Regions from separate parts of the Homo sapiens genome. Here region 2 is linked to region 1. A link means that fine-mapping ties the variant in region 1 to the expression of a gene that starts in the linked region. Tissue or cell type: whole blood. Region 1 holds a variant in brackets; the other region holds the start of a gene. All regions are shown on one strand. Distances are from middle to middle.

What was found. PIP is the estimated chance that this variant, and not a neighbour inherited with it, causes the effect.
Region 2: it holds the start of SELENOW, and the variant in region 1 is fine-mapped to the expression of SELENOW in whole blood (INTERVAL, PIP above 0.99).

Annotation. Positions count from the first base shown.
Region 1 is chr19:47,620,782-47,628,879 of GRCh38, reverse strand. The region is part of intron 1 of BICRA (BRD4 interacting chromatin remodeling complex associated protein); the gene reads right to left. Among named protein-coding and RNA genes, the nearest start is that of BICRA, 16 kb to the right of the region's middle. RefSeq lists enhancers at 1,414-1,988, 7,748-8,098. The variant C/T (reference allele first, on the strand shown) is at 3,522.
Region 2 is chr19:47,775,346-47,783,441 of GRCh38, reverse strand. It overlaps SELENOW (selenoprotein W), which reads right to left and starts at 4,739. Exons shown (of 6, transcript NM_003009.4): 1 at 4,628-4,739; 2 at 2,693-2,717; 3 at 2,525-2,578; 4 at 2,260-2,334; 5 at 2,054-2,152. The coding sequence starts at 4,656. The coding sequence ends at 2,072. RefSeq lists an enhancer at 1,789-2,374 and silencers at 4,442-4,581, 4,592-4,851.

The sequences.
Region 1 (8,098 bases):
TCCCAGTACTTTGGGAGGCCGAGGCAGGAGGATCACTTGAGCCCAGGAGTTTGAGACCAGCCTGGGCAACATGGCAAAACCCTGTGTCTACAAAAAAAAATACAAAAATTAGCTGGGTGTGGTGGCATGTGCCTGTAGCCCCAGCTACTCAGGAGGCTGAGGTGGAAGGATCACCTGAACCCAGGATGTTGAGACTGCAATGAACTATGATCATGCCACTGCACTCCAGCCTGGACAACAGAGAGAGACCATGAGCCCCAAACTCCCCACAGAGGTCACCTTTGGAAAAGGAAAGAAGAGGAGATGGTGCAAAGACTTTCGTCGTGTTATATGACTTTTTTCCATATGTAATGATTAACACAGACCTGGCTGCAAATTGGCAAACCCCAAAGCTAAGAGCTAAGGAATCTTATTTTGACCCTGGCATCCAATGCCTCCCCTCCATTTGCAGAATCCTTGAAAGTAACTCAGAAACACCTGGAAAACCACTGGACACCTTACTACTCAGAGGGCAGGCCCCTGACCACAGCAGCCTCACCTGGGAGTTAAGAAATGCAAAGTGTCTGCACCAGCTGACTCAGAACTCACGTGGTAACAGGATCCCCCAGGAACTGGTGTGCAAGTCTAGAAAACTGTGGATCTGCATCACAGCCCAATGTGTCTGCACCAGCCCATACAGACCGAAGAGGGGTTAGTAATAATAATAGCAACAACAGTCAATAGTAATAGCAACCAGCAATGACAAAGTCCTTGTCATGTTGTCATGTGCCAGTCACTCCACAACATATCATCCCAATTAAACCCCACACCCTGGCCCGGCGCGGTGGCTCACACCTGTAATCCCACCACTTCGAGGAGCTGACATGAGTGGATCACGAGGTCAGGGGTTCGAGACCAGCCTGGCCAACATGAAGAAATCCCGTCTCTACTAAAAATACAGAAATTAGCCAGACATAGTGGCATGCGCCTGTAATCCCAGCTACTTGGGAGGCTGAGGCAGAAGAATCGCTTGAACCCGGGAGGTGGAGGTTGCAGTGAGCCGAGATCGTGCCACTGCACTCCAGCCTGGGCAACAGAGCAAGACTCTGTCTCAAAAAACAAAACAAAACAAAACAAACAAACAAAAAACCCACTCATCCTACTCGGTAGGCATTTTAGGTCTGTGGCCCCCTAATCTGCAATTCCAACCTCCAAAAATCTCTAAAGCCATCCTTTTCTTTTTTCCTGGCTCATTGTGGGGCAAAGTGGAACTGCAATGGCTGTCCTTAGATCTCCCTCTTAGTATCAACAGCAGCAGATATATTTGCTGCAGAAATCTTCGCAGAAGTGCTAGCATATGTGCTGACGGGGAGCTGCCTGCCTTGCTGGGGGGTCCCACATCATCCTGTGTGCACTCTGGTCTGAAACGGCCTGAATTTTGAAACACCTACAAGGTCAGTTATTGCCATAAATGCAGCATTTCCGTTGACCTATGAATGTCATCTATTTAACCTCCAAGGAGGAAGTAGGCCTCTCTAGCTGATTAGGGAAACTGAGGCTGAACAAGGTAGGGGCCTTGTTCCAGTGCCACAGTTGGCTCTAGACCTACACCACACCCCCCAAATCCTGACTCCAGCTGGTCACCCATGTCTCTAGCTCAGGAACATATTGCTCTCTGAAAGAAGCTGAGGTGGCCATGATTATGTTAAAGAAGACATCAGGAAGCGTAAAAGGAGAAAGAGAGGCTGTGCCTCAGCCTGCAATGGCTCAGCAGCAACCCAGGCTGGCTCTTGGGGCAAGAGGAAAGGAGCTTCCCAGCTGTGGTCTTGGCCCCTGTACCAAGGGGGCAGCGAGGCTTGATGAATAAAAACCCAGGGTGGACCAAGCGCGGTGGCTCACGCCTGTAATCCCAGCACTCTGGGAGGCCAAGACGGGCGGATCACTTGAGGACAGGAGTTCAAGACGAGCCTGACTGACATGGTGAAACCCCATCTCTACTAAAAATACAAAAATTAGCTGGGTGTGGTGGTGGGCGCCTGTAATCCCAGCTGCTCCAGAGGCTGAGGCAGGAGAGTTGCTTGAACCCGGGAGGTGGAGGTTGCAGTGAGCTGAGATCACGCCATTGCACTCCAGCCTAGGTGACCGAGCGAGACTCTGTCTCAGAAAAAAAAAAAAAAAAAAAACCCAGGATGCAGCTGGACGTGGTAGCTCATGCCTGTAATCTCACTGCTTTGGGAGGCCAAGGCAGGCAGATCACCTGAGCCCAGGAGTTCAAGACCACCCTGGGCAACATGGCAAGACCCTGTCTCTAAAAAAAAAAAAAAAAAAACCAAAAAATTAGCGGGCCATGGTGGCACATGACTGTAGTCCCAGCTACTTGGGCGGCTGAGGAAGGAAGATTGCTTGAGCCTGGGAGATCGAGAGGTCGGGGCTGCAGCAAGCCAAGATCACACTACTGCACTCCAGCCTGGGAGACAGAGTCTCACTCTGTCTCCAAAACAAAACAAAACAGAAACAGGCTCCATCCAGGAAGCAGACCATCCAGGGAAGAGAGTGGGGGCTCTGCCACTTAGCAGCTGTCGGGCTCTGGGCAAGTCACTTAATCGCTCTGTGCCTCAGTTTACTCGTGTAAAATCGGGGTGCTCCCTGCACCTACCTCCTCCAGTCCTTCTGTGAGTGAAGGAGCTGATGCTTGTAAGTGGCCTAGACCAGAACCAAGCTGGGGCGAGCCAAGGTAAGTGCTGGCTGTGATTATCATGGTTATTGCCATCACGATCCGTGAACAGCTCTTAACTGGCTCCCCACCCCTCCTGAACCCCTTTGCCAAACTTTGGGATACAGAGTCAAGTGTGTGTTTCTCTGGGGAAAAGTCTGTGGCCTCTAAGCAGATTCCTAAAAGGACTGGAGCTCCCTCTTACCCCAAATTAAGAACCACCATTTGCTCATAAGACCCAGGGGCCAAGAAACAAAAGGCGCCTCTCCATGTCGAGCAAGGCAGCTGCCAGAGCTCTCCCTAACTACCAGCTCCCCGTGCCCCCGGCCCCCACACAGCCCCACGGCCTCCCTCTCCTCCTGTGTCTCTCAGCCCATCCATGCTGGCCTCCTGAACGCTTTCCCAATTGTACACACAACCTCTGCCTTCACACCCTCTCCACTTCGCAAACTGTGAGCAAACTTCACTTCTGAGCCCAACCCAGTACCACCTCCTCCAGGCTCTTCCAGAACCTTCCCTCACCTTCTTTCCTTTTCTCTCCTAAGCCTCCAACTCAGCTCAGAAACTCAAAAACCCAATCCAAACCCAACCCAATCTCCTCACGATCTGTATAAAGGTCACCTGGCCCCTCAATCATTCAGTATCAGTTAGGGGTTTATTCAGTCCTTGTCAGACCCTGAGGATGTCACCTAACATGGAAATAAGCTCAGTGAAGTGAAGGAAATTGGACGAGAAAGTCAAAGAGGGCTTCCCCGAGGAGGGAGCATTTAAGCAGAGACCTGCGAGATGTGGCCCCAAAAGAGTTGGAGGCCACAGTGAACCACAATCA[C/T]GCCACCGCAATCCAGCCTGGGCACCAGTGAGACCCTGTCTCTTAAAAAAAAAAAAAAAAGGCCAGGTTGGTGGCTCACACCTGTAATCTCAACACTTTGGGAGGCTGAGGAGGGCAAATCACTGGAGGTCAGGAGTTCGAGACCAGCCTGGCCAACATGGTGAAACCCTATCTCTACTAAAAATACAAAAATTAGCTGGGCGTGGTGGCTCACGCCTGTAATCCCAGCTACTCAGGAGGCTGAGGCAGGAGAACTACTTGAACCCAGGAGGTGGAGGTTGCAGTGAGCTGAGATCACGTCACTGCACTTCACCCTGGGCAACAGAGTGAGACTCTGTCTCAAAAAAAAAAAAAAAAAAAAAAAAAGCCAGGTGCAGTGGCTCATGTCTGTAATCCCAGCACTGTGGGAGACTGAGTCAGGAGGATCACTTGAGCCCGGGAGTTCAAGGCCAGCCTGGGCAACATAGTGAAACCTCATCTCTGCAAAAACTTAAAAAATCAGCCAGGTATGGTGGCACATGCCTGCGGTCCCAACTACTCGGGTAGCTGAGGTTGGAGGAACGCTTGAGCCTGGGAGGTCAAGACAGGAGTGAGTATGATCACACCACTGCATTCCAGCCTGGGCGACAGAATGAGACCCTATCTTCCAAAGAAAAAAAAAAAAGTCAGGGCGTGGCAGTGGGAGGTACAGGCATAACTTGTTACTACACTTCAAAGACACAGCATTTTTTTACGAACTGAAGGTTTCTGGCAACCCTTTGTCCAGTGAGTCTATCTGCATCATTTTCCCAGTCACAAGCTCACTTCATGTCAGTATCAGCATATTTTAGCAATAAAGCAATTTTTAATTAAGGTATGTACACTGGTTTTTTTAGACATGATGTTATTGCACACTTAACAGATTGCAGTATCGTATAAACGTAACTTTTGTATCCACTGGAGAATCAAAAAACGTGTGTGGCTCGCTCTATTGTGATACTCACTTTACTGCACTGTCTAGAACCTAACCTGCCTGCTCTCTGGGGTATGCTTGTAGCAGGGGAAGATGACTCTGGGCAGAGTACAGTGCAGGCCGAGGTGGGGAGGCGGGAACCAGCTTGGTGAGTGAAAGGCAAGATGAAAAGGGTAGGAGATAAGCCAGGCCAGATCAGAAAGACTTTGTACGGAGCTGAAGAGGTTTTACCTGAGGGCACTAGGGAGTCACAATCTGCCGGGCATGTTGGCTCACGCCTGTAATCCCAGCACTTTGGGAGGCAGAGGTGGGCGGATCATCTGAGGTCGGGAGTTCAAGACCAGCCTGGCCAACATGGAGAAACCCCGACGCTACTAAAAACACAAAATTAGCCGGGCGCGGTGGTGCGTGCCTGTAATCCCAGCTACTCGGGGAGCTGAGGCACGAGAATCTCTTGAACGCCGAAGGCAGAGGTTGCGGTGAGCCAAGATCGCGCCACTGCACTCCAGCCTGGGCAACAAGAACTAAACTCGGTCTCAGTCTCAAAAAAAAAAAAAAAAGAGAGAGAGAGAAAGAACACTTCCTTCCACCCAGCTGCTCAGGGCAATGACCTTGGATCATGCTAGATTCCCTGTTTTTCTTACCCTACCCCCAAGCCCCAAAGCCTGCCCTAGAAGCTCCCTCCTCCAGGAAGCCTACCCTGATGCCTCCCCGCCTGACCTCCCCAGGCTCAGCTGGCAATCCTCAGACACTGATCTGGCTTTGCAGGGGAATGGGTGTGTTCCTGCCTCATCGCTCTCCCCAGTCCCTGAAGGCACAGCACCGGCTATTTGTGCTGGAGGTGAGAACATGGGCCACAGTCCAAGCAGTAGGAAGCCTGAGTGTGAGTCTGAATTAACCAGGAGGACGAAAATCCCAGCTCAGGCAGCAGCTCCCTGTGTGACCTTGGGAAGTCATTTTACCTCTGTGCCTCTGTGACAGGGAGATGGTGAACACCTGGGGGTCTGACCCTCATGAGGATTTGAAGTGAACTGTACTACCTGCAGCCCATGGAGCGCACAGCAGGGAGGAGCAGCAGGGAGGGACAGGTAACCAACAAGGCGACCCTCTAAACACAGCACTGGGAGGAAAAGCAGCAGGAGGAGAAACAGAAGCAGTATCCTTTCTGTAAAGCAAAAATCCATCGCACAAAGCAAGCAATTCACTCCAGCACAGGAGGTCGCTGACGGGGAGGGGAATGAAAATAAAAGGGAATTTTATAAATAGGAGTATATATTTTTATATATAATAATGTATAGTTTTATATTTCTATTATGTATTATGTAATGTCTAATATATGAGAGTACACACACACACACTTTTTTTTTTTTGAGATGGCCTCTCGTTCTGTCACCCAGGCTGGAGTGCAGTGGCACTATCTCGGCTCATTGCAACCTCCGCCTCCTGGGCTCAAACAATTCTCTGCCTCAGCCTCCTGAGTAGCTAGGATTACAGGTGCCTGCCACCATGCCCAGCTAATTTTTGTATTTTTAGTAGAGATGGGGCTTCACCATGTTGCCCAGGCTGGTCTTGAACTCCTGACCTCGTGATCCACCCACCTTGGGCTCCCAAAGTGCTAGGATTACAGGCATGAGCCACCGCACCCGGCCCACTCCTAAATTTTTTTTTTTTTTTTTTTTTTTTGAGACAGAGTCTCACTCTGTCACCCAGGCTGGAGTGCAGTGGCACAATCTCGGCTCACTGCAAGCTCCGCCTCCCGGGTTCACACCATTCTCCTGCCTCAGTCTCCCGAGTAGCTGGGACTACAGGCGCCAGCCACTACGTCCAGCTAATTTTTTGTATTTTTAGTAGAGACAGGGTTTCACCGCATTAGCCAGGATGGTCTCGATCTCCTGACCTCGTGATCTGCCCGCCTCAGCCTCCCAAAGTGCTGGGATTACAGGCGTGAGCCACCACGCCCGGCCCACTCCTACATATTTTTAAGCAGACTTTTGTTAGAAACCAAGTTACACTCAGGCGTGGTGGCTCATGCCTGTAATCCCAGCACTCTGGGAGGCCAAGGCGAGAGGATCACCTGAGGTCAGGAGTTCGAGACTAGCCTGGCCAACATGGCGGCGAAACCCCATCTCTACTAAAAAAGTATGGCCGGGAGTGGTGGCTCACACCTGTAATTCCAGCACTTTGGGAGGCCATGGCGGGCAGATCACAAGGTGAGGAGTTCGAGACCAGCCTGGCCAACATAGTGAAACCTGTCTCTACTAAAAATACAAAAATTAGCTGGGCATGGTGGTGCAGGCCTGTAGTCCCAGCTACTCGGGAGGCTGAGGCAGGAGAACTGCTTGAACCCGGGAGGTAGAGGTTGCAGTGGGCCAAAATCGCACCACTGCACTCCAGCTTAGGCAACAGAGTGAGACTTCATCTCAAAAAAAAAAAAATAAAGTACAAAAATTAGCTGGGGGTGGTGGTGCACGCCTGTAACACCAGCTACTTGAGAAGCCAAGGCAGGAGAATTGCTTGAACCTGGGAGGTGGAGGTTGCAGTGAGCCAAGATCGCACTATTGCACTCCAGCCTGGGCGACAGAGCAAGGCTCCATCTTGAAAATAAAAAGAAACTGAGTTAAAGAAGTCTCTCAATTCAGGCCGGGTGCAGTGGCTCACGCCTGTAATCCCAGCACTTTGGGAGGCGGACGCCAGTGATCAACTGAGGTCAGGAGTTCAAAACCAGCCTGACATGGTGAAACCCCCTCTCTACTAAAAATACAAAAATCAGCCGGGTGTGGTGGCATGTGCCCGTAATCCCAGCTACTCAGGAGGCTGAGGCAGGAGAATTGCTTGAACCTGGGAGGCGGAGGTTGCAGTGAGCCAAGATAGCACCATTGCACTCCAGCCTGGGCAACAAGAGCAAAATTCCATCTCGCATTTAAAAAAAAAAAAAAAAAAGACTAAAAAATTTTAAATACAAAAGCAGGACCATGGAAGGGGACATGCTTGAGAAGGTACAAAGCACTGGGAAGACATCAGGGGATTTTGTTCCTTTGGCTAACGAGACAGAAATTTAACAGAAAAAGACAACCCTGCACAAAACAGCCTTGAGACAGCGGGCAAACTGCAGGGTGGGACAGGACTTTTCCTGAGTTTTATCAACTCCAAGATGCGCATTTTTCACACTTTTGTCTCTGAAAAGGAAGCTGCATCTTACAACTGATGGCTGCTTAGCCCAGGAAATACCCTGTCTGGCTTCCACTCCCAGGTGAACTGCAGGAGAAACACCAGAACTCATGGAGCCTCGGTTTCCCCGCTGAGCAGTGGGGAGGTCAACAATCCTGACCTACCTCCCAGGTTCCCATTCATTCCCTCTTTGAACAGCACTTAGGGAGTGAGTACAGGACTCCAGGCTCACACAGAGGCACCAGGGAGGCAGCCAGGGTCAGGACAAGCAATGGCCGTAGACAGAGATCGAGTGGGGCTCCAAGACCCATGGCCGCCTTGACTGGATGACAGGCCTGCTGGGGAGCTCTGCTGCTGCCGGAAGAGGCCTAGGATTTAGGGCTGGGCTACCTGTGCAAAAGAACTACTCAGAGACAGCGCTTGATGAAAATGCTGTTTCCTGGACGCCACTCATCGG
Region 2 (8,096 bases), 150 kb before region 1:
CACCTGAGGTCAAGAGTTCAAAACCAGCCTGGCTAACACGGTGAAACCCCGTCTCTACTAAAAAATACAAAAAATTAGCCAGGCGTGGTGGCAGGCGCTTGTAGTCCCAGCTACTTGGGAGGCTGAGGCAGGAGAATGGCGTGAACCCGGGAGGCGGAGCTTGCAGTGAGCCGAGATCACGCCACTGCACTCCAGCCTGGGCGACAGAGACTCCGTCTTAGAAAAAAAAAAAAAAATTTGCCCAGCATGGTGGCAGACATCTGTAATTCCAGCTACTCACGAGGCTGAGACACAAGAATCCCTTGAACCCAGGAGGCAGATGTTGCAGTGAGCCGAGATCACACTACTGTACTCCAGCCTGGGCGACAGAGCGAGACTCCACCTCAAAAAATAAACTATGCTCCAGGCCCTGCAGTGCCAGAGACCAGAAAAAGGGCTAGTAACTGTTCTAGAATGGGTTGGGTTTCACGCTTATCTGGACCATACTGGCTTACAAACTGGAAAATCAGACTCAGAAGGTGCTGGAAAGTAGTTCTTTGTTCCTGAGGTTCATATAGAAATTGCCACTTGTTCCACAATGTATTAGGCTGGAAACAATACTTGGTTCAGAGTGCTTAAGGAGGCCAAGCACGGTGGCTCACGCCTGTAATCCCAACACTTTGGAAGGCCAAGGCAGGTGGATCACCTGAAGACCAGCCTGGCCAACAGGATCAGACCTACTAAAAATACAAAAATTAGCCGGGCATAGTGGCATGTGCCTGTAATCCCAGCTACTTGGGAGGCTGACACAGGAGAATTGCTTGAACTCGGGAGGCAGAGGCTGCAGTGAGCCGAGATCGCGCCACTGCACTCCAGCCCGGGAGACAGAGCAAGACTCCATCTCAAAAAAAAAAGAAAGAAAGAAAGAAAAACAGTGATAAGGAACCAGTAGCCAACTCCAGGAACTAGTGGTCAATTCTAGTGCTTAGGAGCTGGTTCACATTTTTCAATTGCTGGGTTGGGAAGGGGGGCTCAGGTTTACAGTGTGTTGGGAGCTGGTGGTGTATTTCATTCTCGGCTCTATGGGGAGAACTGGGAGTCAGCTCTAGGGTTTTTTTGGAGCAGACAATCCATTCTAGAGTTAGCATTTGTTTCTAGAGCATTCTTGGACTCATGTTCAGTTCCAAAGTGGGTAAGTTTCTGGAGCTGGATCAGGTCTGGAATATTCCTAGAACTAATTCTCAGGTTCAGAGCCCGGTGATAATTAGTGACCTACTCGAAATTGTGGAGCAAGGAAATTCTGTCTCAAAACATGCTGGGAACTTGGCCGGACGCTGTCACATGACCTGCTGGGTTGGGAACTGTTTCTTGGCAATGGGACAAAGACCTAGAGTTCCGGATTCTGAACCGTTGGGTTGCTAGCACTTTTCATTCCCAAACCAGGAGAGCTGTTTTAGGGCAGCCCTCTGACCCCACCACCAACTCAGCTGTCATCTTGCATACCCCATCTCAGCTGTCATCCTGCATACCTCTGACCCTATCTCAGCTGTCATCCTGCACACCTCTGACCCCATCTCAGCTGTCATCCTGCACATCTCTGACCCATCACCATCTCAGCCGTCATCCTGCACACCTCTGACCCATCACCATCTCAGCCATCATCCTGCACACCTCTGACTCATCAGCATCTCAGCCGTCATCCTGCACACCTCTGACCCATCACCATCTCAGCCGTCATCCTGCATACCTTTGACCCATCACCATCTCAGCTGTCATCCTGCACACCTCTGACCCATCACCATCTCAGCTGTCATCCTGCATACCTTTGACCCCATCTCAGCTGTCATCCTGCATATCTCTGACCCATCACCATCTCAGCTGTCACCCTGCACACCTCTGACCCCATCTCAGTTGTTGTCCTCCACCAACCGGGTCTAACTTTATCCCGCTCGCTCTGGGGACACACGTGATGTCCCCCCCATCTCCCAGGCTCTCCACCCTGGGCCAAGGAGTCAGAGCATGGGGCAGGGAGAAGATCCAAAGGGTGGTGTCCCTGTCTAGTGGGCCCCCTCACCTCTGCCTTCAGGGCGCATTAGCCCTGAGCCAAGGCGGCTTTGATGGCGGCCACCAACTTCAGAAACTTGCTTTCTGTGTCCACGTAGCCATCGCCTTTCTAGGGAGGGGAGGAAGAGGGAAGGGGTGAGCTGGGACCGAGACACCAACCTCAGCCCCAACCCCATGCTAGCCCCAAAACCAGGCAGGACGGACAGACAGACATACCTTCTTAGAGTGAATCAACTTCCCGGCTACCATCACTTCAAAGAACCCGGTGGCCTGGGGAGTTCCCTCGCCGCACTGAGGAAAGGGGGTAGGGGAGATGTTGGAGGGGCTAAGATGTCCTCTTGGGGAGACCCTCCCCTTCCCAGGGGGATGAGAACATGGGTGAAGGGCGTAGGGCTGACCTAACCCCCCTGCAGTGCCATCCAGGCCTAACGGACCGACACAGTGGCTGTGCTCAAGTCTTTCTCCCCATCCCAAGACTCACGATGTCCAGGCGGCCGGGGAACTCATCTTCTAACTTCTTCTTGAGCTGAAGATACTGAAAACGCGGTGAGAGGTCACAGCAGGGGTCATACCAGTCAGCCCCCTCCCAATATGCACTCTACCCCTCCCCAGCTCCCAGGAATGCCCCCCGGGCATCCACTCTGCTTACCTTGGACTTGTAGCCTCAAGCGCCACTGGTAGGAGAGTCCAAGACATTGGGGCCCAGGGGAGAGAGGGAGAAGTGGGGGATCGGGGAGAGGAGGGTAGACACAGGCGGTGTGGGGAGAGAGCAAGATGGGGCCAGGAAGAAATAAAGAGGAACACAGATGACCAAGCAGAAGAGGTGACAGATGCCCTCAAGAGAGAAGACAGGCACCAGCCAGGCAGAGTTTTGGGACACAGCACAGGGGGTGGCGCGGGGACACACAGAGACACACAGAAAACCAACACCAAGCAAGAGACAGAGAAGGGGGAGGGGAAAAAGGGGAGAGAGGAGACAAGGAGACCACAAATACGAGAGACGGGGACGGGGGAAAACCAGGAGAACTGGATTAGGAGAAGAACAGCACACGTAAGGTCCCCACCCACTCCCTGTGCCCACCACCCTCACCCACAGCCCTCGCAGCACTCCAAGGAAAACCCTGCGGCTCCTGGATTCTTACACCACGCCCAGCTAATTTTTGTATTTTCACCATGTTGGCCAGGCTGGTCTCGAACTCCTAACCTCAGGGGATCGGCCCGCCCCAGCCTCCCAAAGTGCTGAGATTACAGGCAGGAGCCACCGCACCCGGCCCCGCAGCTCCTAGATTCTGAACACCTTCCCAGTCCCCAGGGTGAAATACAGGCTCACCCAACCCCCACAGCAGGCTATTTCGGGACTGGAATCTGGTGTACAGGCCTGGTAGGCGTCTCAAAATGTCACTCTTGCCTCTGCTTTGTCGAGCAGGCAGAGACGTTGGAAAGCTGCCGACAAACCCAGGTTCCAGTTACCCCTGTCACCTGCAGTCCAGACTTGAAGCTACTGACCTGCCCCCACCCCAGTCCCAGCCTCAGTTTTCTCACCTGTAACATAGAACTAAAATTCCTCTCTTTAATTTACTTTTTTTTTTTGAGACAGAGTCTCGCTCTGCTGTCCAGGATGGAGTGCAGTGGCACGATTTCAGCTCACTGCAACTTCCGCCTTCCGGGCTCCAGTGATCCTCCTGCCTCAGCCTCCCAAGCAGCTGCGACTACAGGAGTGCGCCACCATGCCCGGCTAACTTTTTAAGTTTCTGTAGAGACGAGGGGGGGGTCTCCCTGGGTTGCCCAGGCTGGTCTCGAACTCTTGGGCTCAAGCGATCCACCCGCCTCAGCCTCCCAGTGTTTGGATTACAGGCGTGATCAACGGCACCTGGCCTAAAATTCCCCTCTCTTAAGGGATTCCTGGGAGGATAAATTCATTGAACACGTATTTATTAAATACCTACAGCATGCCACACAGTATTAGGTGCTGGGGAGTGGAGAGAACGTAATTTATATCCTATCCTATTATACCCTTCCTGAGACTTGCAGAAATTAAGCGTGTTCGGTATTGACACAGAGCCTCCCTCTTGCCACAGACGGAAAACTGAGGCCAGAAAAGGAGTGGGGTTCGTGGCCAAGGGAACCCACTGGGCAGAGGCCAACAATTCAAGTGCTTCTGAAACACAGGCTGAGACATTCTCGAACCTTCTGGGCTCTCACTGTCCCCACCCCGCGACTGTTCGGGATATTGGGGGAGGGGAAGCCTTAGGGTGGAGGAGCCTTAGGTCCCTTTACAAAGCTGACCCCCAGCCCCTTCCCCAGCGGAGCCCCGGAGTCGGGGGTTCGAAATTGACACACACTCGTCTCAGCCCCACCTTTTATAACCCGAGATGCCCAGCGTGTCACAAGTCGAAGACGGGGCCTAGGGACGACCGCCCTCTGTTTTTCGCCCCTCCGTACGCCCACCCCACCCACATACAGGGGCTCCCTTTTCCCATACAAGGGCTCCCATGGGTCCTCTCCCCGGGGCTCCCTGACCCCGGCTCCGAGAATCGGGTCCCGGCGGGGGTCGGGGACGGGGGCCGCTGGCCGCTGGGCTTACCAATAAACGACTCGGACGGCGAGAGCCATGGCTCGGGGCTGCCACATCCGCTGAGGAGCGGACGCCCGGGCCACACTAACCTCCCACCTGGACGCGCTAGGTCTGCGCGAGTGCGGCGGGAACCTGCGCAGAAAGGATGGAGCCTCGGCTTCCCCTGGCGCCAACCAATGCCAGGGAGGGGCGGTGGGCGGTGGGCGGAGAGGCGCCAAGGCGGAGGATAAGGAACCCGCGACCCGCCAGCCCGAGGCCCCCACACAAGTCTCCTTCCCATCCTCCTGTTGGGCTGGAGAGAGTCTCGATACAGGCAGTCCCCGGGGGAAGCCCTCCGCGCGTCCCCTCCCAGGTCCCCCCGGCCAGAATGGTACGGCCCACGGGGGCGGTGATTTACGGCTGGCCGCTCCCAGCTGGACCCGGAATCAGCCTCAAGGGTGGTCTTTTCACTGCGTGGGCTTGGGGACGGCGCGGTGGGGACAGAAGCAGGGCGCGATTCTTGAGTCCCTCACCTCCCCTGGAGAGGGCGAGGGGGCGAGAGGGGAAGGATTCGGGGTAGACCAGGTGAGGGAGGAGACAGGGAGTTGAGGGGGAGGTTTTCAGGGAGCGGTCCAGGGCCCACAGTTGCCTTATAAAGACCTGCAGCCGCAGGGCGCGGTGGCTCACGCCTGTAACCCCAGCGCTTTGGGAGGCAGAGGCAGGAATTCAAGACCAGCCTGGGCAACATAGCCAGACTGCGTCTCTACAGAATAATAATAATAATACATTAGTGGCTGGGTGCGTTGGCTCACGCCTGTAATCCCAACACTTTGGAAGGCCGAGGCGGGCGGATCACTTGAGGTCAGGAGTTCAAGACCAGCCTGGCCAACATGGAGGAACCCCGTCTCTATTAAAAATACAAAAATTAGATGGGCGTGGTGGCGCGTGCCTGTAGTCCCAGCTACTCGGAAGGCTGAGGCAGGAGAATTACTTGAACCTGGGAGGCGGAGGTTGCAGTGAGCCAAGATCAGGCCAATGCACTCCAGCCTGGGTGACAGAGCGAGGCTCCACCTCAAATAAATAAATAGATAATAAATCAGCCGGGCGTGGTGGTGTGTGCCTACAGTCCCAGGCTACTTGAGAGGCTTAGGCAGGAGGCTCGCTTGAGCGCAGGAGTTTGGAAGCTGCTGTGAGCCGTGATTGCACCACTGCACTCCAGCTTAGGCCACCAAGCAAGACCCTCTCTAAAAAAACAAAAGGCCTGCTGCGGCTGGGCACGGTGGCACATACCTGTAATCCCAATGCTTTGGGAGGCCGAGGCAGGAGGACTGCTTGAGCCCAAGAGTCTGAGACCAGCTGGGGCAACATAGCAAGACCCCATCTCTACAAAAACTTTTAAAATTAGTCCGTGTGGTGGCATGTACCTGTACTCCCAGTTACTGGGGAGGCTGAGGTGGAAGGATCACTTTAGCCCAGGAGTTTGGGGCTGCAGTGAGCCGTGATTGTGCCACTGCCACCCCAGCCTGGACAACAGAGTAAGACACTGTCTCGAAAAAAGAAAGAAAGGAAAAGGCCTGGCCAGGCACAGTGGGTCACACCTGAAATCCCAGCACTTTGGGAGGCCAGGGTGGGTGGATCACCTGAAGTCAGGAGTTCGAGACCAGCCTGGACAACATGGCAAAACCCCGTCGCTACTAAAAATATGAAAATTAGCCAGGCGTGGTGGCGCATGCCTGTAGTCCCAGCTCTTCGGGAGGCTGAGGCAGGAGAATCACTTGAACCCAGGAGGTACAGGTTGCAGTGAGCCAAGATCACGCCATTGCACTCCTGTTTGGGCGACAAGAGCAAAACTCAACTCCATCTCAAAAAAAAAAAAAAAAGGAAAAGGAAAAGGCCTACTGCCGGACCTGGCACAGCCTGGTCATTCATTACAGAACAATAGTCACTCCCCATGAACCCTCTCCGTGCAGAGGGGATCGTCATGGAAAGTGCTAGAAACAGGCAGTTGAGTTGAGGAGTGAGGGTGCAGGGGCTTATCTCTGAGCCTGTTTCTCCATTTGGAAGTTGGGTGTAATTGCCTACAGGAAATGTTCACTCATTTAACAAATAGGTACTTCATAACCACCTGCAGTCCCAGTTTCCAGGGATACAGCAATGAATAAATAAACAAAGTCCCTTCCTTCATGGGAGTGATCTGGCAGGTAGAGACAAAGGGCAGGAAACAACATGAAAACAGCACTTCCATTAGATGGTTGATGTGAGCAGTAAGCGAGTTTATACAGGTAGGAAGAACTAGAGCTCTGACTGGCACACGGGGATAACTCAATAAACTCAGCCTGATGAGGTGGCTCACACCTGTAATCCCAGCACTTTGGGAGGCCGAGGCAGGCAGATCACCTGAGCTCAGGAGTTCAAGACCAGCCTGGCCATCATGGTGAAACCCTGTCTCTACTAAAAATACAAAAATTATCCCAATGTGGTGGTGCACGCCTGTAATCCCAGCTACTTGGGAGGCTGAGGCAGGAGAATCACTTGAACCCAGGAGACAGAAGGCAGTGAGCTGAGATTGCACCACTGCGCTCCAGCCTGGGCGACAGAGCGAGACTGTATCAAAAAAAAAAAAAAAAAAAAAAAAAGGTTAACTCTATCTGGGATTTCCCTGTCCCCAGATCCCCTAGTCTTTACCTCTTAGAACCCTAAGCAAAGTTCAAGTCGACTCCACCCACCTCAGTCTGATCCCCCTGATCTTGGGAGGATTTAATGAGCAAGTGCATGTAAAGCAACACAGGGCTGGGCAAAAAGTGAATGACCCACAAATAGAGCTATCTTCTGTGACTCCCAGAGCCCTCAACAAAAACTCAAACCTCTGCCTGGGCAACATAGTGAGACCCCATCTCTATAAATACAAATTATATATATAGATATGTATATACACAAAAATATATATACAAAATAAATATATACATACCATATATATTTTTTTGTTTGTTTGTTTGTTTGTTTTTTGAGACGGAGTCTCACTCTGTTGCCCAGGCTGGAGTGCAGTGGCACAATCTCGGCTCACTGCAACCTCTGCCTCCCAGGTTCAAGCAATTCTCCTGCCTCAGCCTCCCAAGCTGGAGCTACAGGCATGCGCCACCATGCCCAGCTAATTTTTGTATTTTTAGTAGAGACAGGCTTTCATCATGTTGGCCACACTGGTCTCCAACTCCAGACCTCAAGTGATCTGCTCACCTCGGCCTCCCAAAGTGCTGGAATTACAGGCTTTGAGAACCGGGCCCGGCCCCAGCCAATTTTTTAAAATATTTTGTAGAGACAAGGTCTTGCTATGTTGTCCAGGCTGCTCTCAAACTCCTGGGCTTAAGTGATGTTCCTGTCTCGGCCTCCCCAAGAGCAGAGATTACAGGCATGAGCTACCTCTCCAGGCTCAAATTTCCGAATTTTTTAAGGACACCAGTCATGATGGTTTAGGGACCATCCTACTCCAGTATGACCCCAA